Linked DNA regions of Homo sapiens. The protein of the gene in region 4 purifies or fractionates together with the protein of the main gene of each other region. This does not show direct contact. Each region holds a gene or a part of one and is shown on either strand. Other genes may lie near its edges. The genes, in order: PITPNM1, DAZAP1, HMGN5, FGD1, MICALL2 and ESYT2.

Region 1 (4,096 bases), on a different chromosome or scaffold from region 4:
AAACCCTTTCCCCCAGCACACAGCCTGGACTTGGCAAAGAGCAGGCTGGGTGAAAAGGGGGGAGGGAAGAGCACCCAGCGCCCAGGCAGATGGGTGTGGGGCAGGAGGCCATCCTGACTCGCTGCCATGGCCGCGCAGTCCTGGAGCGCTGGTGGGGGACCAAGCGGATCGACTACTCGCTGTACTGCCCCGAGGCGCTCACCGCCTTTCCCACCGTCACGCTGCCCCACCTCTTCCACGCCAGCTACTGGGAGTCCGCCGACGTGGTGGCGTTCATCCTGCGCCAGGTGGGCCTGGGAATATGGAATGGGAGATGAGAATGGGACGGGGATGGGCTGCTTTGGGCCGGGGGAGGGGCAGCCCTCCCTCCCCTAAGAGACAGAGGCCTCGCCCCCTGTCCCGTGCAGGTGATCGAGAAGGAGCGGCCACAGCTGGCGGAATGCGAGGAGCCGTCCATCTACAGCCCGGCCTTCCCCAGGGAGAAGTGGCAGCGAAAACGCACGCAGGTCAAGATCCGGGTAGGTGCCCTGCCCCTCGCCCCCTCGCCCACTCGCCCACTCTCGCCCACTCACCAGAGAGGCCCCGCCCCTCCCCCCAGCACCCCCCTCCTCGGGTCCTAGCCGATCCAACTCTCTCCCAGTCCTGCCCCGCCCCTGGGGTCCTGGCCCCACCTCATTGCCCCAGCCCCGCCCCTGGGAACCGCTGGTCTCCCCGCCCTCTGCGGGAAGTTTGGGTCTAGGGTCTGGATCTGCGCTGGTCCCCACCTCGCCTCATCCTCTGCATCCCGTCCTGTCACAGCTCTGCCCCTGGAGGCGCGGCCCACACACAGGCTCTCAGGCCGGGGTCCACAAAAGTGCGCCCCCCGGGCTTGCCCTTTTCCCTCAATGCCCCGCCGCCTCTAGGCCCCCACCCCGGTGTTTGCGTGTGGATCCTCACCCGCTCCCCCTCCCCAAGCATCCCCATCCTTTGCTGGCCGCGGACTCACGCCCTCTCCTCCCTCTAGAACGTCACTTCCAACCACCGGGCGAGCGACACGGTGGTGTGCGAGGGCCGCCCCCAGGTGCTAAGCGGGCGCTTCATGTACGGGCCCCTGGACGTCGTCACGCTCACTGGAGAGAAGGTCAGGACCCAGAGGCCCTGTCGCCTGGTCCCATGGCCCCATCTCCTGTCCTCGGAACAGCTCCTGGTCCCTGGTGGTTGTGCCCCTAGACCCACCCATCCCCGACGACAGCCCCGCCTCTGCCCACCTCCACGCAGGGCCCCCATTTACCTCCCGCCCCTTCTCCCCTCCAGGTGGATGTCTACATCATGACGCAGCCGCTGTCGGGCAAGTGGATCCACTTTGGCACCGAAGTCACCAATAGCTCGGGCCGCCTCACCTTCCCAGTTCCCCCAGAACGCGCGCTGGGCATTGGTGTCTACCCCGTGCGCATGGTGGTCAGGTGAGCGCGGCTGGCCGGGCCTCTGCGGGAGGGCTCCGCCAGGCCTCGCCCCGCGCCACTCACGCCCCGCCCCGTGGGCCGCAGGGGCGACCACACCTATGCCGAATGCTGCCTGACTGTGGTGGCCCGCGGCACGGAGGCTGTGGTCTTCAGCATCGACGGCTCCTTCACCGCCAGCGTCTCCATCATGGGCAGCGACCCCAAGGTGCGAGCTGGCGCCGTGGACGTGGTCAGGTAGGAGTTGCCACTGCCACCACCACCCATTTCACCGGGGTGACCGGCCCCTCACCCCTGGCCAGCGGAGCTGACCGCTGCCCCCGCCCCACAGGCACTGGCAGGACTCCGGCTACCTGATCGTGTATGTCACAGGCCGGCCGGATATGCAGAAGCACCGCGTGGTGGCATGGCTGTCGCAGCACAACTTCCCCCACGGCGTCGTCTCCTTCTGCGACGGCCTCACCCACGACCCACTACGCCAGAAGGCAATGTTTCTGCAGAGCCTGGTGCAGGAGGTGCGGCGGCTGGGGGAGGCTCCGGGTCCTGACCCCGCCCCCGCTCCCCCTTACCCTCCACCCCCGGATCGGCGGAGGCCCATCTGTTCCCAACTGGATCGGCCCGGGCCCTGCCTGACTGCAGCGGCCCGCTACGGTCCTGCTCCCCTAGTTTGAGGGGCCCCGTGTACTTAGGGGCAACTAGGGAGATGCAGCTGGTCCCGCCCCTGTCCCCGTGGGACTGGGACCTGTCTTCGCCTCCGTCTGCCTGGACCCACCCCCAGAACAATCTGGGGAAGCCCAACAGGCCCCGCCCCCAGCTGCACGGCTCCACCCCTGGGGCGGCTGATTGGCATCTCCCGCCACAGGTAGAACTGAACATCGTGGCCGGTTATGGGTCTCCCAAAGATGTGGCTGTATACGCGGCGCTGGGGCTGTCCCCGAGCCAGACCTACATCGTGGGCCGTGCCGTGCGGAAGCTACAGGCGCAGTGCCAGGTGAGGCCCAAGTGAAGGCCAGGAACAGGACCCCACCAGGGGGCAGGGCCCTCAGTCCCAGGCCTTGGGAACCACGGACTCTGGGGAAGATGTGAGAAGGCCTAACCGGCCTCCAGGGAACCTGGGATCCTCCGAGGACAAGGGCCATGAGCAGCTTGAGCTGCCAGCTGCCAGGCAAGCCAGAGGGGACAGCCCACACTGGAAAGTGCTCAAGACCCTAGGCGCTGGTTCCACTCGGCCATGGCTTTCCACTGTGACCTTTCTGAGCCTCAGCTTCCCATCTGTAAATGGAAATGATCATGGCACTGCCCATGTCAGCTTATGAAGATCACATCAACAGGCACAGGGCTGGGCACAAAGCAAGTGCTGGCTAAACATTGGCTGCTGTTATTTTTCCTCTAAGACCCCATTTTCCAGATGAGGAGACTGAGGCCCAGAGAAGGGCAGAGCTAGGAGCACAGCCAAGGTGCCCTGGCTCCCAGCCTGGGGTCCTATCTATTGAGAAGGCTTCAGCTCAGGCTGTGCCAAGCCTGCCACCAGTCCCCCAGCCTGCCTCAGGTGCCTCTGGAGGACCGTGGAGGGCAGCGTGTGGGCCCTTGGCCAGCACCCCCTCATCGCTGCCTACCTCTGCCCACAGTTCCTGTCAGACGGCTATGTGGCCCACCTGGGCCAGCTGGAAGCGGGCTCGCACTCGCATGCCTCCTCGGGACCCCCGAGAGCTGCCTTGGGCAAGAGCAGCTATGGTGTGGCTGCCCCCGTGGACTTCCTGCGCAAACAGAGCCAGCTGCTTCGCTCGAGGGGCCCCAGCCAGGCGGAGCGTGAGGGCCCGGGAACACCACCCACCACCCTGGCACGGGGCAAAGCACGGAGCATCAGCCTGAAGCTGGACAGCGAGGAGTGAGGCCCACACCAGCCTGGACCTGGGTTATTTATTGACACACCCAAGGGGCCCGAGGGGCTGCGTGTGGGAGGCTGGGGACCCAGACTTTTGGCCCCAGCGCTGGCCCCCCCAGCCCCACACCCTATATCTCCGTGTGCTCCTCGGTGTTACTTCCCTTTCATATGAGGGGACCCAGCGCCGGGGGGAGGGAGGAGGGCGTGGGCATGGGCGCAGAGGCTTTTCCAGTGTGTATAAATCCATGAAAATAAACGCCACCTGCACCCCACCCACTCACCCCATGCCTGGCATCACAGGGCAGCCAGCCCAGTTTCCAGTTCAACAGGGGACACTGATGTGCACAGAGAGGCCAACACACACCCAGGGCCATCCAGCTCACAGGCAGGGTCAGGATGGGGGCCTGGGCCTCAAAAGGTCGCACGAAACCCACGCCCAGGGCCATCCATGTCACAGGCAGGTCAGGATGGGGGCCTGGGCCTCAAAAGGTCTCACGAAGCGCTCGGCCCTCTCCTCTTTCTGGACAGTCAGCCCACCCCAGCCCAACCCGGCTCACCTCAGCCCCAGCGTAGCTTCTCATGGAAACCCTGCCCCCAGACACCGAGGCCAGGAGACCATGGGATCCGAGGCTGGAGTGGGAGGGCAGCACCAGGAGACTACCTCCCTCAGGTGCCCAGCTACCTAGCTTGTACCCACTTCATCTCCCCCTTAAGACTGTGGGCTCCTGGGGCGCCCCAGCCCTGGCCAGCGAGAGACACTTCCTTGGTGAAA
Region 2 (4,062 bases), on a different chromosome or scaffold from region 4:
ATTTCTCCGGCCTTAGCTTCCCGAGTAGCTGGGATTACAGGCGCCCACCACCACGCCCGGCTAATTTTCTTTTGTATTTTTAGTAGAGACGGGGTTTCACTATATATGTTGGCTAGGCTGGTCTCGATCTCCTGACCTAAATTGATCCTCGGCCTCCCAAAGTGTTGGGATTATAGGCGTGCGCCACCTCACCCGGCCTTGTTCCTTGTATTTATTTAATTCTGTGATGATGAATAAACCAAACGATCAGGCTGTCAATGTGCTGTGAGATTAAGGAGAAAAGCAGTAGGCAGCACGTACCCGGTTTTACAAAACCCTGCGGGTCACCTGTTTACTACCGTCAGCCTAGACCGGTTTTTCCACCTCCTTCTGCTGACATTGGAGGACGGGTATCATTCTTTTTGGGGGGTCGTCGTGTGCACTGCAGGGTGCTGAGCGGCATGTCTGGTCTGGACCCACTCGATGCCAGCAGCACCCCGCACTCAAGTTGTGACAACCAAAACCGTGTTTTCAGACATTGCCAAGTTATCCCCTAGGGGGCAAAGTCACCCAGAAGAAGAACCACTGATGTATGCAATTAACAGATGCAACTAAAACAGTATTTGGCTATTAATAGTAATAGCACTTGGGGGGGGGGTCAATAATATCTTTTCATAGTCATTGAATTTAGTTAATTGTTTTGATTTGATTCCAGTTCAGCCCCGAACTGGGTGACCTTGGCCAAGTGACTCAGCCTCTCGGACCCTCGGGATCCTCTTCTGTGAAATGCGGACAGGGGAAGGAGCCTCGCGCGGGACGCTCACGTGCCGTTCCCGCTCCGTCCGCCCGCCTGGGGTGCGGGCGGGTACACTCCCACTCCCCGCAGCGCCCCACGCGGCTCCACCGCTTCCGAGTGAAGAGTTAAAGAGGAAGCGGCAGCCGCGCCTGCGCCCACAGTGCCTAGCCCGGAGCGCCGGTCTCGCAAGCGCGCACGCGCACGCAAGCCCGCACGCGCGCGCACGCACGCACGTGGCTCGGCCCGCGCGCATCCTCCCCTTGCAGGGGCGGGGCCAGCGCAGGGACTCCATTTCCCAGCGTGCCCCGCGGCAACGCCAGGAGCCTCCGAGGAGAAAGGAAAACGCGCGACGGCCCCGACTGCGGCGGCGCGAAATCCGCCTCAGGGACGCACGCACAGACGGAGTACCCCTGGACCCGCCCCCGGAGACCCCGTGCGGGAGCGCGCCCGGGCGTGCGCAGGGGCGGCGGCGCGGCGGCGCGGGGACGCGCGGTGACCGTTGGCGCCGAGGGGAGGAGGCAGCCGCCGCCGCCGCCGCCGCCGCCGCCGCCGCCGCCGCCGCCGTTGCGCAGATCCGGGCCGCGGCTGTGGGGAGGGCGACGGAGCGGGTGACCTTCCGGAGGCGGGAGCGAGCGAGGAGGCCCGGGAGCGCCGAGCGTCGCCGCCGCCGCCGCCATGAACAACTCGGGCGCCGACGAGATCGGGTGAGGACGAGCGGCGCGGGCCTGCGTCTCCGCCCCGAGCCCGGCCCGCCGCTCCCCGCCGCCCGGCCTCAGACGCCGCCCCCCGGGGCCGCCCCGTCAAGGTCACGCCGGCCGGGGGCGGACTCGGGACCCGGACTCGCCGCGGCTTCGCGCCGGGGGCCCTGGACGGGTGCCCGGGGTCTGGGGGGGTCCTGGCGCCCCCGCCGCCGCTTCCCGGCTTCCCGTCCTGGGGGATCCTGAAGGAGAGCCTGAGGGGTCCGGGGGGCCCCGCCGCCGCCTCCAGACTTCCTGGTCGGGGGAACCCCGAACGGCAACCTGGGGGGGTGTCCTGGGGCGCCCGTGCCGCCGCTTCCCGACTGCGCGTCCTGAGGGACCCCGAATGGGAGCCAGAGGGGTTCAGGGGCCCCCGCCGCCGCTTCCTGGTTGTGGCGGCCCCGAACGGGAACTTGGGGGGGTCTGGAGCGTCCCCGTTGCCGCCTGTAGGGCTTCCTGGCCTGGGGGACCCCGAATGAGAACCTGAGGGAGTCTGCGGGGAGTCCAGGGCGCCGTCGCCGCCGCCTCCCGGCTTCCTGGCCAGGGGGACCCCAAACTGTGGCGTGGGGGGTGGTCCGGGGCGCCCCCAGCGCGCGCCCAAACTTGGCGGGCGGCGCACGTGGCGAGCCGAGGCGAGGGTTCCGGTTCTGCCACCGCCCAACCTATCCCACTCGGGGCTCCGGGCTCCCCGCTCCCATCCCACCCCCCCAAAGTGGTAAGGTCGGGAGGGGTTCGCAAACCCAGGGCCCAGGGGGCTCGGGTCAGCCGGGGCCTGCTGTGTTTACGTTGCCTCGGCGCCTCCCCGCCGGGGGTGGGCTTGAGCTGCGGAAGGGAGAGTCAGCGCTTCCGAGGCGGCGACGGGCCCGCGGATCTTTGCTGCGCCGAGGCGTCCCCTCCTATAGGAGCCTGACCTGCTCCGGACCCCGCGGGGCCGGGAAACCTCATTTCGCTGTGCCCCAGGGCTCGGCGCCATTCTTTGGTAGGAGCGGCTCCTGCCGCAGCGACGTCGTTTTAGAGTTGCATTCTTCCGGCAAAACAGTCTGGGTTGGGTTTCCTAGTGGTCTGGTGTAAATTTCTCGGTGCCCTTAGCTTTGAGCAGCGCCCTGTGTTCTCAGCGCTGGGCTTGGCTAGTGCGGGAGCGGTTGCTGCTAGAGGGTTGCCTTGGCAGGCGCCTCTCGCACCAGCTACAGGTCACACTTGTGGATGGGAAATGCCTTTTGTGGGCTCTCCCCCTCCCCAGACAAAACAAAAGAGCACCTTCCGTTGGAGAACCAGGATGAAAGCACTTAGCCCCTGCCTAGCCCGTGCTGTGAGTCCTCTCCAGGCACTTTGACTTGGCAGGGTCCGTGTGCCTGTGTGAGGGACATTGCAGGGATGGGCCTGAGCAGGGAGTCCACCGGCCATGGGGGATGGAGCCATCGACTTTGGGGTGAGGCAGGGAAAGGGCTCCCAGATGGGGTACCTGGATTAGGTCCATTCAAGCCGCGGGTGAACGTGGGCCCGCTCCACCCAAGCCGTGGCTGTGAGGAGGCTGGAGAGAGGTGAGGGCTCCTGTCCCCTCCCTGCATGGACACCCTTGGGAAGTGGGGCAGCTGGGGTCCCAGCCTGGGTCTGGAGGGGTCCCACCCACAGCACAAATAGGCTCGCAGGCCACCCGGACGCCACGGGCTGCGTGGAGGAGAACTGGAGTGCATGGACCCTGCTCTCCTCCCCGGCTGCCAGGAGTGTCCACTGCTTTCTAAGTCAGACTCCTTGGGCAAGAAGTGTTGCCACAGCCGCCCGTCGCATGGGAGACCGGCTTCCATTCTATGCGGAGTCCACGGTCTGCTCTGATCTTGCTGTGTGGAGTTGTTGTGTGCGTGAAATGCTTGTGACCCTGCGAAGCGCCCTCCTGGCAAGTCCCCTGCAGGTGCGGTGGGTGCCATGCAGGAGGGTGCTGAGCTTGGATGGAAGCAGGCCCTCTCTGCGGCAGATGGCGGCTCTCAGGACGCCATGGGTCTGCGGTGTCCCTTACCCACTGGGGGGGCTCGGCAGCCTGAGGAGCTCCCTCTTCCTGATGCAGAGCCCTCACTGCTCACTGCCATGGAGGAGGCAGGAGATCCCGCCGGACCCCGCTTGGAGGGCTGGGCCTGGAGCATGCATGGGTGCGGGGTCAACGCCTCAGGAGACTTGGAGCTTGGGAGCCCCCTGTTCTGGGACACTTGTGGCCGTCCAGCTGCTGCCCTGGGAATCCACACCTGGAAGGTGGGTTAGGGAGCCATCCTTGGGGGAAGCTCTGCTTTTGAGTCTGAGAAGTCGTCCCAAGTTTTGAGGGTCCCTGTGCTGGCTTAGAAGTCCATGTAAAGCTTGATGGGGGATGAAAGTCAGCTGAGGCCTGCCGGTGATAACGGATGCCTTACACACACCGACTTCCAGTCAGCTTGAGGGGGGCTTCATGCAGGAGGAAGCGCATACGTGTGGTGGGGTGTGGGGAGTCCCTCTCTGGATCCTGGTGGGTTTGGCACGCGGACCCTACATGGTGGATGTGATGGACAGTGTCCTCCTTTGGGA
Region 3 (3,500 bases), about 27 Mb from region 4:
ATATTGAAATAAATTTGCTTTTTTTTTCAAAAATAATTTTTGAAATGGCATACAGCTGATCATTTTACTTTGCTTATATTTTGTTCAGTTAGTAATATATTATATTCTATCATATGATACATGTAAACCCCTTGGGTGGGGATTATTTGTTCTGTTTTGTGATTGTCCACAGTGTTTTGACATTTTCACTGGGTAGAGACAAAACAATTTCAGTTGGATAGGCCCATTAAATGTACATGCCTTTGCTATCATATAGTGACAATACTGTTTCCCTGGGAAAACAAAAGGTGAAAACAGTAGTAACCCCAAAGTTGTGCTTTGTAATAAAAGTAGTAACTAACATTTGATAATATTTTACAGTTGGCAAAGTATATAAGATTATATATAATTATATATATAATATATGTAAGATGTATTTGCATATGTTAATTTTAAATGGACACAATTGATTTTGTATGGACTTATATACTCTGGTGTTATGGCTAAAGGCATGTAGAAATAGATATAATCTCAATATTTAGTTTACTGCTAATTGCTTAATACATAAGAATATTGATTGAATTCCTGAAATCATAAAAGGTTAAAGCTATGAGAAACATTAGAGAGCATCTAATCCTATCACTTTGTAGTTGAAGAAAGTATAAACTGTCATTATGTTCATAAATGAAATCCTTTATTAAAAAATATTGCTAAACTTAGGGAAATTGAAGTTTTAGTAATAATTGATATATTTAATGGTGACAAAAGAAAAGAAGGTTTTTTTTTCTGCATTTTACTTTTCAAGTCCACTATTATATAAGGTTAAATATTCAACTTACTAGTTTTTAAAACAGTAAATACAGCATATTTTCTTTTAAAAAGAAAAGTAAGGCCAGACGTGGTGGCTTACACCTGTAATCTGAGTACTCTGGAAGGTTGAGATGGGCAGATTGCTTGAACGTAGGAGTTTGAGACCAGCCTGGGCAACATAGAAAATCACCATCACCACAGAAAATACAAAAATTAGCCGGGCATGCCTGTAGTCCCAGCTGCTTGGGAGGCTGTTGTGGGAGGATTGCTTGAGCCTGGGAGGAGGAGGTTGCAGTGAGCAGAGATTGCCTCACTCCAGCCTGGGCGACAGAGGGAGTCCCTGTCTCAAAAAAAAAAAAAAAAACGGAAAAAAAAGAAAAGAAAAGAAAAATAGGGCTAGACTAAAACATATACTATATAACCATAGACTTTACCCTCCTTGGCTCTGTTTCTCATGTGTTAAAAGAGTAATAACTTATATCTAAATTACAAATTACAGTTTCTAAAGCATTTTTTTCATGTGTTTTCTCATTTTCTCCTTGTAACATCCCCGTGAGGTGGGTGGTATTACTCTCTTTTTATATATGAAAATAACAGCCTCAAAGATACTTATGCCTTTGCTCAAGATCACATCACATAAGTGGCAGATCTAGAATTCAAACACAGGTTTTCCGGCCCCTCAATCCAGTGGTCTTTCTATTACATACACAGGTAGGCAAAAATTTTCTTGGTGAAGTCGTCATGAATCAGGGCATTCCAAACTTGTAGATACAAAGATTGAAACACTTACATCACCATAAGGTCTTTTAAAAATATATCTAAATTGTTGTTCTCACTAACAGCATTTCTCTTAATTATTACCAATGGAGGCGTAACGATCAACAAAACCCTGTTCCTTATTAATTAGACTTGACAGAAATAAACTGACCCTCTCTAGACAGAGGGAATTAATTGATCAGTCTAACCTGATGCCAGCAGTTTGTCCTTGGCAGCAACTAGTCAGCATTCTAACTGGTTGCCTCTCATCTATATCACTCAACTTAAAAGGAAATTTATTTTGTTTATATCAAGGGAACATTGTTCATTTTTAATCCTGCTTTAGGCTTACAATGAAATTTACAATGAAGATATTATATGATAATTTTGTTGATACCAGATTTATATGTGATACTTTAAAGAGTTTGCATAAATTATTACAACAGCTGGTAAAATAATTGTGACCATTTAATCAACACAGCAGTTAAATTGTATATTTACTTTCATTGTTTTATATTGCTTGGCAGAAAATGAAGACAAAAAGTGATATGATGGAAGAAAACATAGATACAAGTGCCCAAGCAGTTGCTGAAACCAAGCAAGAAGCAGTTGTTGAAGAAGACTACAATGAAAATGCTAAAAATGGAGAAGCCAAAATTACAGAGGTATTTTCTAATGTTAACAGTTTTATCTATTTGAAAGTTTAACAATGGGTACAACTGAAAGAAATCCTATTTGCCTTTTAGTTTATAAGTTGGAAAAAAATTAAGTGAGCAGTGGTTCTATAGTATAATGGTATCTAAGAGGAAAATAAAATTAACTTAAAATATGAGAATTTAGAGGGACCAGTAGTGCGAGCAGTGGCTTAGCATTGCTGTTACTAGAACAATGCCAATGATTATGACTTAGTACTAACATAACAACCTTCTTATTAAATACAAGCCAATCTTTATTCCTTTTATCAGCACACAGGCTATTTGTAAATCCCTTTTCCAGAATTTATGATTCTTTTATTTCCTCTGTGGATGGCAAAGCAAATCATTATATAAATGTTTTTAATCTTATTTTGCATATTTAATGCATACAACATTTTTAGGTATTGTAATAAAACACTGAAAATGGGTGTAGCCACCAAATCTATAAACCAAACATATGCAAATATGGAAAATCTTTTGTAAGTTATCTTATAATATCTGGTACAGTACTTTTCAAGTAATTTTTACATAAAAAATATCATTATTATAGAAACAAAATATGTTATTTTCCAAGGACTATATTTTGTTTACATGCATAGTCCTCATTAAGAATTGCTGATACAGAATAAATATATGTCATCCTTTAAGTATTTACTTTGTGCTTCTTCATATTTGAAATAAAAAGTATTTATAAGTGTTTCTGTATTTATTGTTTCAAATATCTATTTGTAGATATTTCCGTGGACATATTTTAGTTAATCTCATTTCTTAGAATGTTTTCTCATAATGTGATATTTAGCAGGCTTCTTTCACAGGAAAATTACTTTCTTTAAATGAAGTATTAGTCTTTCTGTGAAATAGATATAATCCAGTGTAAATATTTAGGGGAAATGGTTCTAAATTTACAGACAGAATCTTGTTTTTCTTTTCACTATACTTACAGGCACCAGCTTCTGAAAAAGAAATTGTGGAAGTAAAAGAAGAAAATATTGAAGATGCCACAGAAAAGGGAGGAGAAAAGAAAGAAGCAGTGGCAGCAGAAGTAAAAAATGAAGAAGAAGATCAGAAAGAAGATGAAGAAGATCAAAACGAAGAGAAAGGGGAAGCTGGAAAAGAAGACAAAGATGAAAAAGGGGAAGAAGATGGAAAAGAGGATAAAAATGGAAATGAGAAAGGAGAAGATGCAAAAGAGAAAGAAGATGGAAAAAAAGGTGAAGACGGAAAAGGAAATGGAGAAGATGGAAAAGAGAAAGGAGAAGA
Region 4 (3,500 bases):
CTAGGTCTTTACCCTGCAGGCACAGGGGAGCCATTGACAGATTTGAGCAGAGGAGTGACAGTAAACTGTGTGAGAAAGCTCCTTCTGGCAGCTAGGATGGAATAAGGGTTGGAGATTGGAGCCCGGCCCCTGAAAGGCATGTGGATGCCTGAGCTGGGACAGGGGCCATAGATCTCCGTGAGCACCAAAACTTGGTCATGAAGAGAGAGCCTCTTAGGAAAACACGACTTGGTTGGCCAGCCATATGGACCTCCTTCAGAAGCACCTCTGCTCCTCTAGCACAGGCTGATCTGAGTGGGGAGATCCAGCACATACAGAATGGGGTACACAAAGACTGTGGCCAGGCCTTAAGCATGGGTGGGATTTATTAGTGTGTGGAGATGTACAGGGACTCATTTCAGCTTTTTCTTTTTTTTTTTTTGATGATACCTGGTCACTATAGGAAATATGGAAATTACAGAAAAAGATGAAAGAAGTAGGAAAAAAATCCCCTGTTATCTGAGCCCCCAGAGAATAAGCACAATGAACATTGTGACATAAATTCTTCCTGGTGTTTTTTAGACATGTATACTTGTAAAAGTAAGATCATTCTATATAAACATGTTTGTATCCTTTTCTTAAAACACCCTGAGCATTTCCCAGATTATTAAAAGACCTACATGAGGATCATTTGTAAAGGTTGTTTAATGTTCCATTATATGAAGACACCATAATGTATTTAACTGAACCCCTACAGTTGGCCATTTTTTTTGGCAGGGAAGAGGTACAGGTGAAGGTGTGCTCCCCTACAGATGGACATTTTTGTTTCCCACTTGGAACTGTTGTAAATACCAATATGACAAAAATGTGTTTGTGTATAGAATGTGTATTTTCCTAGAATAGATACCCAGAATCAGAATCATTGAGACAAAGAACAGGATCATCTCATTGTTTCTTTATATGGCTTTTTCTGATTATAAAAGTAATACATGTTCTTTGTCAAAAATACGGAAAATACAGAAAAACCTAAAGAAGACAATAAAAACCACCCACGGCCCCACCAACCAGAGACAACATGGGTATGCTTCCTTCTGGTTACATATGTAACTATTATTGTTATTATTAATGGTAATAATAATCTTGGCAAGCTTGCATTTTTTTATTGGCTGCCAACTACTCCATCTATTGTGATTCTGGCATTGTGACATTGGACAACTTCTGATTTTAAATGATGTTGCTGTGGACATCTTTGAGGGTGGAGCTTTCTGAGATGGGAGGGTGTGATCAGGCCAGGAGGAGGTATTCAGGGAGGAAAGAAGCCCCGAGGCCGGGTGCGGTGGCTCACGCCTGTAATCCCAGCACTTTGGGAGGCTGAGGTGGGTGGTTCACAAGGTCAGGAGTTCGAGACCAGCCTGGCCAACATAGTGAAGCCCCGTCTCTACTAAAAATACAAAAATTAGCCAGGCATGGTGGCACGTGCCTGTAGTCCCAGCTACTTGGGAGGCTGAGGCAGGAGAATCGCTTGAACCCGGGAGGCAGAGGTTGTGGTGAGCCGTGATCATGCCGCTGCACTCCAGCCTGGGCAACAGAGTGAGACTCCGTCTCAAAAAAAAAAAACAAAAAACAAAGCCCCGGAAAGGCTCCTCTCTGCTAGTCCCCCATCTGACCTCACCCCTCTATGCCTGTAGAGTCTCTGGAGCTGATCGCCACAGCAGCAGAGCACTCGAATGCTGCCATCCGCAAAATGGTGAGTGGCCCTTCTAGCCCCTGCCCTTCCTTGGCCACCCACCTGTGGTGTCTCCATCCTGGAGTGGGGGTGTCGTGACTTGTGGGCATCTGACAGGAGGCTGGCACCCCAACCGTGCCTTTTGTTCCCTGTCTTTTGCCAGGAGCGAATGCATAAGCTGCTGAAGGTATATGAGCTGTTAGGGGGCGAGGAGGACATTGTCAGCCCCACCAAAGAGCTCATAAAAGAAGGCCACATCCTTAAGCTGTCAGCAAAGAATGGGACCACTCAAGACCGATACCTCATACTAGTAAGTGCCAGGCATGGAATTGTGGGTGGGTCATGCCCCTCCCAACACACACACACATAGTGACCTGGTACTCACTCAAAGACTATACCTCCTTTCATTCCTGAAAGAGGAAAAAAAAGAAAAACAGACTATACCTCCTGCTAGTCATTCTCTCCTCTAGTAACGAATTGTATTTTCACTACCTAGCTAGGATTTTTTTTCTCCACTTTACAGATGAGGCAAATAAGCCTTGCAGAGAAGTGACTTGCCCGAGGTTCCCCACTAGGAAGTGTCTTCCATGCCTAGGCTCTTTCCTTGTGACCCCTGTGCCCAATTTGGGCTGTCTTTTCTCCATCTATTGCCTACAGTCCTTGGCAGTAAAGCTTCAGGGCAAGGAGCTGGGCCACATCCCCACTAGGCCCTCTGCACATACATCCCAAACTTTTTCCTTCCTAGTTCAACGACCGCCTCCTTTACTGCGTGCCCAGGCTGCGGCTCCTTGGCCAGAAGTTTAGCGTGCGGGCACGCATTGATGTAGATGGCATGGAGGTAAGCATCCAAGAGGTGGGAAATGGGAACTTGGAGTGGGGCATTGGTGTTGGGAGGAACAAAGATGCTGGCTTTGACCCCGAGTCTGTGTGTGTATGTGTGCAGAGGGCTAGGGCCCTGTGGAGTTCAGTGGCCTCACCATGCCCCTTTCTGCCTCCATTCAGCTAAAGGAGAGCTCCAACCTCAATCTGCCTCGAACCTTCCTGGTGTCAGGAAAGCAGCGCTCCCTCGAGCTCCAGGCCAGGTACTTATCCTTGCCTATGCCTTTCCTCCAGCGCCTACCTCCCTTTTGTTCAGATATGCTGAGGCATTCCAGGCCCAGAGATTGTTCCAGAGAAAGGATGGGCACCTTTCCCCAAAGATGCAGGCTTGCTCTTCAGCGGTGGGGGTGATCCCTAAGGGTTAGACACCATTTAGATTCAGGGTGAGTACTTCACGATATGGGGAAAGGTGGCACTCCTGCCAGGGAAACCTTTTGGAAAATGAATAAGCTCTCCCTAATTAAACCAAGAATTTCTTCTGGTGGATTTTGTTAGAGGAGAGAGAAGAATGGGATGTGAAACCCAACATGAATAATACCACCACAAATAGTTTATTGTAGATTCACAGATCTAAGAGAAATAACAATCAAATGCAGTACTTGGTCCATGACAGAAGCCTGGTTTGGGAAAAAGAGCCCTAAAAGACATTTGTGGGACAATAAGAGAAAATGTGGATGTAAAGTGAACATTAGATATTGAGAAATTATTGCTGTCTTAGGTGTGATAATGTTATGGTGGTTATGCAGGAGAATGGCCTTGTTTTGCAGCAGTGCATGCTGAGGGCTTAGTGTCACAATGTCTGTTAATTACTTTAAAATGGTTCAGCACCCAAAAAATACATATGTAACCATACATACACATTTGCACACATATACATACATACACATATACAGTCATGCACTGTATAAAACATTTT
Region 5 (3,500 bases), on a different chromosome or scaffold from region 4:
CTGCCGCTGTTCCCAGTTCTCAGCCCAAAACTGAAGCACCACAAGCAAGTCCCTTAGCCAAGCCGTTACAGTCCTCGTCTCCCCGGGTGCTTGGCCTCCCTTCGAGGATGGAACCGCCAGCCCCGCTGAGCACGAGCAGTACCTCTCAGGCATCCGCGTTGCCCCCGGCAGGCAGGAGGAACTTGGCGGAATCCTCAGGGGTCGGCAGGGTGGGTGCTGGCTCCAGGCCGAAGCCAGAGGCCCCGATGGCAAAGGGTAAAAGCACCACCTTAACGCAGGGTGAGTAAGGGGCTGGGAGGCAGGAGGCCCCGGGGGCCCGCAGCTCTGGGACTCTCCCCTGGCCGCACTCTGCAGTGTGTGCGGTTTCATCATCAGCCCCGCCCGCCTTCCTCTCCGTCTCATCTCTGTCCTCCGTGACACCTGCTCGCAGCCTCCTGGGGTCCTGGTGCGCTCTCTGTGTGGTGGCTGCAAATGTCCTCAGGGCTATGCTGTTTGCCGGCACCCAGCCCACCCCATCCGCACGTCCTGCAGGTGCCTGCAGCCCAGCCCTGCAGCGTCCCGCTCAGCTCGGTCTGGCAGTTACATCCTGTGGCTAGCAGTGGCCTGGCTTGGCCGTGGTCTGTGGGGCCTCCTGTTCTCCCGTGGTGTTTTGCGCTTCCTGCCTGTCGCTTTGACAACGTCGCGCTGTTGCTGTGGCACCCTGTGTCACCACATACCGGAGATGGTGCCCTATGCCCCGTCCCCCCTGTGGTGTCCCGGTGACGGTGCCCTATGCCCCGTCCCCTCCGCTGGTGTCCCAGTATGCCCTGTCCCCCTGGTGGTGTCCAGGTGAGAGCGCCCTGTGCTCCGTCCCCCCCGGTGGTGGTCTGGTGACGATGCCCTATGACCTGAGGGCTCTGGTGCCTCCTAGGCTGGGAGCTCTTCCTGGGGGCTCCCTGGACCACACAGTCCTGTTTTATGGCCTCACGTGTTTTCGGGAACAGGGAGCGAGCTTTCTTCTAGGCAACTGGCTGTCACCCACCAGGGGTTAGCCCCCTGGGTGATCATGGCCAGGCTGGGCAGGACGTGGGCTTAGGGCTTGTGAGGCCAACCCTGTGCCAGCTGGGAGGCCCAGGGCACTGGGATGGCCAGGCTACGCAGTGAGCTGTCAGCTGTGCCAGGACAGACCCCAGGCTCCTGGCGGCCCTGCTTTGATGCACGGCTCTGTCTCCCAACCTGGGGGCAGCCGAGTCCCCCCGCCTCGCCCCACTGCAGGAAACTGGCTGTCCCTGCCACCTGGGTGTGTGTAGAAAAAAGCTAGAGGTTCCCATGGCTTTATCGAGCTGGGCTCAGGGAACAAGCTGGGCTGCAAAGGGTTTTTCCAGATCCTTCTCTTTGGCTGAGTTCTCATTGTTAAAGCCACGCGCTGGATCCTGCAGGACCCAGGAGCCAAGAAAGCCTGCAGACGGGCAGCCGTGGCTCAGGTGTTCCCCTTGCACAGGTGGACAGAGGATCAGGGTCCACGGGGCTCACCCTGCCACGTCCCCACCCATTCGGCAGAAGGGGAAGTTGAGGCCCAGAGGCAGGGAGAGCTTCCCCCAGGGACACACAGCACAGGAGAGCCAGCTGGGAGCCCCTCCCCTGACTCCCTGCCCGGTGCTCCTGATGCCCCCCGGCCGGCTGGCTGTGGGGGTGTCTGAGGGTGGAGTGGCTATGGGAAGATGGCAGGGGGAGGCACAGCCACCCTTGCAGACACCCCATTCCCAGCACTCCTTCCTCACACCCAGACCCCTTGCCTCCCACCCAGACATGAGCACCAGCCTCCAGGAAGGCCAGGAGGACGGGCCGGCAGGATGGAGAGCGAATCTGAAGCCCGTGGACAGGAGAAGCCCAGCTGAGAGGTTAGGGATGGGTGGGGCTGGCCCAGGGCCTGGTACACCATAGGTGCTTAATAAATGCAGTGAGTATGTAATCGACCGATTGACACGCCTATCCAGGGATAGACGCACCTCCCTGTGAGTAGCAGAGGCCAGGTCACCCCTGCCTGAGGGACATGGGGGCCGCTGTCCCTGGTTTGGGGGCAGCGTTGCGTGTCTCACCTGGGCATGGCAGCACCCGTGTGGGTTCACGCACCATGCCTGCAGCTGGGGTGGAGTCTCCCCATGTGTGGGTCCCGTGGGGCCCGGAGCTCACGCCTGGAATCTGCTTCGCACCACGGCAGGTAGCGATGGACACGTGTGTTTGCAGGAGGGTCCCAGCAGGTGTAGTCAGTGGGCTGGGAGGTGGCATTTGCTCAGAAGGCCACCTGCTCCCTCCGGCTGGTCTGCATATGGCCTGGGAGCCCCTCCAGGTGGGCCAGGCCCTGGGGCTGGTGGTTCGGGTTCCGACCTCATGCCTTCTGCCCAGGACTCTGAAGCCCAAGGAACCACGGGCCCTGGCAGAGCCGAGGGCGGGGGAGGCCCCCAGGAAGGTCTCAGGCAGCTTTGCTGGGAGTGTCCACATCACCCTGACCCCCGTGAGGCCTGACAGGACCCCACGCCCAGCCAGCCCAGGACCCAGCCTCCCAGGTACTCCTGGACGGGACCCAGGGGCCCCCGGGTTGCCTAGCTGGCCCTCCCCCTTGGGTGGGGGCCCCGGGACTGGACCTGTAGTGCCACCTCCTGGGGTGTGCGGAGAGGCGCTCCGGTCAGCCAGAGAAGCTGGTAGTCCTGGGCAGGCTTGTGTGTACATGTGTGCATGTGTGTGATGCATGTGTGCATGTGTTCATGTATGTGATGCCTGTATCCATGCGTGATGCATGTGTGCGCATGTGTACATCTGTGTTCATGTGTGTGATGCATGTGCACGTGATGCATGTCCATGTGTCTGTTCATGTATGTGATGTGTGATGCATGTGTATTCATGTGTACATCAGTGTTCATGCGTGTGATGCATGTGTACATGTGTGATGCGTGTCCATGTGTCTGTGTTCGTGTATGTGATGCATGTGTGCCCACACGTGATGCATGTGTCCATGTGTACATCTGTGTTCATGTGCGATGCATGTGTGTCCATGTGTACATCTGTGTGATGCATGTGTGTGCAACCGTGTTCATGTATGTGGTGCATGTACCCATGTGTGGATCTGTTTCATGAATGTGATGCATGTGTGTCCACGTGTGCACCCGTGTTCGTGTGTGATGCGTGTGTGTGCACACACATCTCTGTGTGTATTCCTAGCACTCATAGCTGCCCTGGATCCATATCCAGCTCTCGTGCCACTTCCTGTGTGACCTTGAGCAGCCAGCAGCCCCGTGGGTTAGCCCCCTGGGGAGACATGGCCAGGTTGGGCAGGACGTGGGTGTAGGGCTTGTGATGCCAACCCTGTGCCAGTCGGGAGGCCCAGGGCATGGGGATGGCCGGGCTACCCAGCGAGCTGTTGGCTGTGCTGGGACAGACCCCAGGCTCCCAGTGGCCCTGCTCTGAAGCGTGGCTCTGTCTCCCCACCTGGGGGCAGCCAGGTCCCCCTCCCCACCCCGCCG
Region 6 (3,500 bases), on a different chromosome or scaffold from region 4:
AGAATAACATACTATCCATAATATAGCATTTAAGAAAGGAGGATACTATACACACCCATATATCCAAACATATCATTAAAACATTAACAAAATCCACGGAAATGTTGCCAATGTAATGTTATCACTAGTTAGTAGAATTGCAGGTAACGTTTTTCTTCTTTATTCTCCTCCAAAGCTTATTCTTCAATGAGCATACTTTCTTCTTTAAATCAGAAAAAAATGTTTTTGAAACCTGTCTAGCCATAACATAAGAAATGAAGAAAAATACAACTACATGTTCATTAAATATAGAAAGATAAAGGGGGACTTCACCGTGTAACTGAACAAATTAAAAAAAAGAAACTCAGTTTCAATGACAATTTTACAAGTAATAAAGAAAGCATAATGAAAACCATCATATTAGTATTTCCACATCTGCTGTTGGTGTGGTTATCACTAATTCCAGCACGCAATCACCAAGCACAAAACTGAAGCTGTTATCCGAAAGGACACTGCTGCTGCAATACACAAGTGCACGTGGGATGTGCTTCTTACTTTGTACTGATACTTTCATCTAGACACTGCCGTAATCCATTAAACCCCATTCAATTTATACTTTACTAGCAACTACCATTATGGATGGTTTGGTATTATGGATGATCTTTTAAATATATTTTTTCTTGGATTTTAAAAAAGTGAACATGTATTATTTTTACTAAAAGAATGGGGGAGAGTCTAGAGAGATATTAACAAATGGATAAAACATTTCAATTACAAGGAATGAGTTCAAGAGATCTATTGTACAACACTGTAACTATAGTTAGCAACAATATAATATATTCTTGAAAAAGTCACTAAGAGTAGATTTTCTAGTGTTCCACCACAAAAAATGGTAAGCCCGTGACATAATGCATTTGTTAATTAGCTTGATTTAGCACATTCTACAATGTATACATATTTCAAAACATGTTGAACACAATAAAAATAATACTTTTATCAGATAAAAAAATAACAACAGCCAGGTGCAGTGGCTCACGCCTGTATTCCCTCCCAGATCTTTGGGAAGTAGAGGCAGGAGGATCGCTTGAGCCCAGGAGTTCAAGACCAGCCTGGGTAAGAAACCTCCCTTCTACAAAAAATTTTAAAAATTAGTGAGACGTGGTGGCGCATGCCTGTAGCCCAAGCTACTGGGGAGGCTGAGGCGGGAGGGGTGACTGAGCCCAGTAGGTTGAGGCTGCAGTGAGCCATGATTGTGCCACTGCACTCCAGTCTGGGCAACAGAGCAAAACCTTGTGTCAAAAAATAAATAAATAAAAATAATTGAAAAAAACCCACCAATTCATACTATGACTAATGCTAGGATTAAACAGATTTGCTGTGTTATTGCCGGCTGGTAAATTTCTGAGTTTAAGGCCTTGTCTTACACACATTTTGTGTCACTAGCACCTAACACAGTACCTAGAACATAGCAAATGCCTAATAAATGTCCATAAATTCATCAAGACTCATTTTTAATGCTTACATATAAATTGGACTAGTTTCTTAAAATGCGATCCAGGAAAAAATTCACAAAAATAAATAGTTTGCTTTAACAAACATTATAGAACTTTAAAAACAGTTAAGAAAAATAAATGAAGAAAAGAAATTAGTGACAGGAAGAAAGACTCTGGAAAAACCTCCATAAATAAAACATGCTTTATGGAAAAAATGATCCCATGCAAAAGACAACTACTAACATATTCACCATCTGTGTAAGAACTATGCCCCACCCAATTCCAAAAGAACAGGAGGTGACTCAGTGTTCAAGGAACAATAAGATCATTGAGAGTAAAAGAAGATCGCCTATTTGAAGAAAAGTGTGATGGGTACTCCCGGCTATTACAGTAGTACAGGGCCCAACAATCCAGCAATAATTTTGGCTGTGAGTTTTCTGGTAGCTACAGCAAGAATAGAAGTATACTGCATTACACAGTAGCTTTCCTTTTCTGATTTCACAAGCTTAGATCTGAACACATCACTACTTTCACCCCCATCATGTCCAAACTCTGTCTTAAAAGCACGACAGTAATCCCAGCCACGTCCCTGCATCCTGTAAATCAGAACTGCCCTGAGGGCCTGGGCCAGCCATCCAGAAGGAGCACTTCTACTCCTCCCAGGTCATGGGGACCTGGGCTGGGGTCTAGTGGGACCACTTCCTTTCCTCACTGCTGGGCCCAGAGTAAGTCCCAAGCTGAGTGCAGCCTTCTACCAGGTGGAGGAGTTACAACCCTATCAGAACTTCCATGCATTTCCCTCCAGATGAGACGGCCCAGAAATCTGCCTTTGCAACTGTCCTCCACACGGCCGCTCGCGCTGTTGCCACTGAACGTAAGGCCATGCCCTTCAATAAGAGTAGAATCTCTTCCCTAGCATGTCCGTAAATTTATAACACGCCCCCTTAGTTACCATCAAACCCTCCCTGCTCCTTTCTTCTGAGCCACCGTGACACTGGAGCCATCACCACAGCCCGCCTCCCAGGTGCTTCTTCTAACTACTCTGAGCAGAGTGTAAATATGAAGACAGGATGATTTCTTACACTTGTGTTGGCACAATCATCTGCATAGAGTGGGTCCTTACATCTCTAAATGAAGAAATAAAATTCCTCTGAGACAGAATCGTCATGAAAACTAAAAAAGATAATGACTTGCCAAACCATAACAAAATGCAAGAGACGACAAAAGACCACAATGTATTCTATAATACATGATAAAATTATGTTCTGATAGAATGTACCCAGTATGAAACAAACCAATCCATAAGCTAAACTACTCAAACATATGTGATGATTATATACTGATACCTTGAATCACAGTTAAGACTTTGGAATAACTCACGGAAAAACAGATTTCGGTTTTTTATATTTTTGAAGCATGATTTCTATTGCTATGCAATTAAAATTAATATTTGTTTAAGCCAATATAGTATAGCATCCGTGTTTAAGGGACTATTAGAGGCCCGAGGTGGTGGCTCACACCTGTAATCAGAGCACTTCAGAAGTGCTGAGATAGGAGGATCACTTGAGCCCAGGAGTTTGAGACCAGCCTGGGCAACATAGCAAGACCTCGGCTCTACTACAAGTATAAAAAATGTTCAAATATATAAAATTAAAAAATAAATAAAAATAAAGTAATATTAGAGCTGGGTACAATGATTCACACCTGTAGTCCCAGCCACTCAGGAGGCTGAGGCAGGAGGATCCCTCAAGCCTAGGAGTTCGAGGCCAGCCTGGGGTAACACAGTGAGACTCCAGCTCAAAAAATAAAGTACTATTAGGTTTAAGTTAAAAATATTTACCTAGTTTTTAAAATTCATATACCTAACCCTTTCATTAACTCTCCTTTAAAATGTAAATACCCCCAAACTTAAGTTAGAACAATATTCCTTAAAAACTTTTACAGTTTTAGCTAGAATTCCGTAAGCAAAGGTGTACCTCACTTTGCACTATAACTGACCACCTTTTCATCCATTATTAAAAGAAATTC

The links.
Region 1: the proteins of FGD1 (region 4) and PITPNM1 purify together in Homo sapiens (affinity purification with mass spectrometry; one large-scale study listed by BioGRID and IntAct). This does not show direct contact.
Region 2: the proteins of FGD1 (region 4) and DAZAP1 purify together in Homo sapiens (affinity purification with mass spectrometry; one large-scale study listed by BioGRID and IntAct). This does not show direct contact.
Region 3: the proteins of FGD1 (region 4) and HMGN5 purify together in Homo sapiens (affinity purification with mass spectrometry; one large-scale study listed by BioGRID and IntAct). This does not show direct contact.
Region 5: the proteins of FGD1 (region 4) and MICALL2 purify together in Homo sapiens (affinity purification with mass spectrometry; one large-scale study listed by BioGRID and IntAct). This does not show direct contact.
Region 6: the proteins of FGD1 (region 4) and ESYT2 purify together in Homo sapiens (affinity purification with mass spectrometry, with the first as the bait; one large-scale study listed by BioGRID). This does not show direct contact.

Annotation. Positions count from the first base shown.
Region 1 is NC_000011.10:67,491,268-67,495,363, reverse strand, and holds the end of PITPNM1 (membrane-associated phosphatidylinositol transfer protein 1), read left to right. Parts: intron 1-138; coding exon 139-287; intron 288-407; coding exon 408-518; intron 519-1,003; coding exon 1,004-1,120; intron 1,121-1,293; coding exon 1,294-1,442; intron 1,443-1,526; coding exon 1,527-1,676; intron 1,677-1,770; coding exon 1,771-1,954; intron 1,955-2,301; coding exon 2,302-2,430; intron 2,431-3,067; coding exon 3,068-3,331; 3' UTR 3,332-3,596; downstream 3,597-4,096. UniProt on the Homo sapiens protein: Catalyzes the transfer of phosphatidylinositol (PI) between membranes. Binds PI, phosphatidylcholine (PC) and phosphatidic acid (PA) with the binding affinity order of PI > PA > PC. Regulates RHOA activity, and plays a role in cytoskeleton remodeling.
Region 2 is NC_000019.10:1,406,324-1,410,385, forward strand, and holds the start of DAZAP1 (DAZ-associated protein 1), read left to right. Parts: upstream 1-1,262; 5' UTR 1,263-1,450; coding exon 1,451-1,479; intron 1,480-1,561; exon of another isoform or gene 1,562-3,298; coding exon of another isoform or gene 3,299-3,756; intron 3,757-4,062. UniProt on the Homo sapiens protein: RNA-binding protein, which may be required during spermatogenesis.
Region 3 is NC_000023.11:81,114,914-81,118,413, reverse strand, and holds part of HMGN5 (high mobility group nucleosome-binding domain-containing protein 5), read left to right. Parts: intron 1-2,072; coding exon 2,073-2,210; intron 2,211-3,183; coding exon 3,184-3,500. UniProt on the Homo sapiens protein: Preferentially binds to euchromatin and modulates cellular transcription by counteracting linker histone-mediated chromatin compaction.
Region 4 is NC_000023.11:54,454,735-54,458,234, reverse strand, and holds part of FGD1 (FYVE, RhoGEF and PH domain-containing protein 1), read left to right. Parts: intron 1-1,667; coding exon 1,668-1,726; intron 1,727-1,868; coding exon 1,869-2,015; intron 2,016-2,450; coding exon 2,451-2,543; intron 2,544-2,707; coding exon 2,708-2,787; intron 2,788-3,500. UniProt on the Homo sapiens protein: Activates CDC42, a member of the Ras-like family of Rho- and Rac proteins, by exchanging bound GDP for free GTP. Plays a role in regulating the actin cytoskeleton and cell shape.
Region 5 is NC_000007.14:1,438,971-1,442,470, reverse strand, and holds part of MICALL2 (MICAL-like protein 2), read left to right. Parts: coding exon 1-279; exon of another isoform or gene 280-1,308; coding exon of another isoform or gene 1,309-1,786; coding exon 1,787-1,880; intron 1,881-2,385; coding exon 2,386-2,546; intron 2,547-3,475; coding exon 3,476-3,500. UniProt on the Homo sapiens protein: Effector of small Rab GTPases which is involved in junctional complexes assembly through the regulation of cell adhesion molecules transport to the plasma membrane and actin cytoskeleton reorganization.
Region 6 is NC_000007.14:158,819,510-158,823,009, forward strand, and holds part of ESYT2 (extended synaptotagmin-2), read right to left. Parts: intron 1-3,500. UniProt on the Homo sapiens protein: Tethers the endoplasmic reticulum to the cell membrane and promotes the formation of appositions between the endoplasmic reticulum and the cell membrane. Binds glycerophospholipids in a barrel-like domain and may play a role in cellular lipid transport.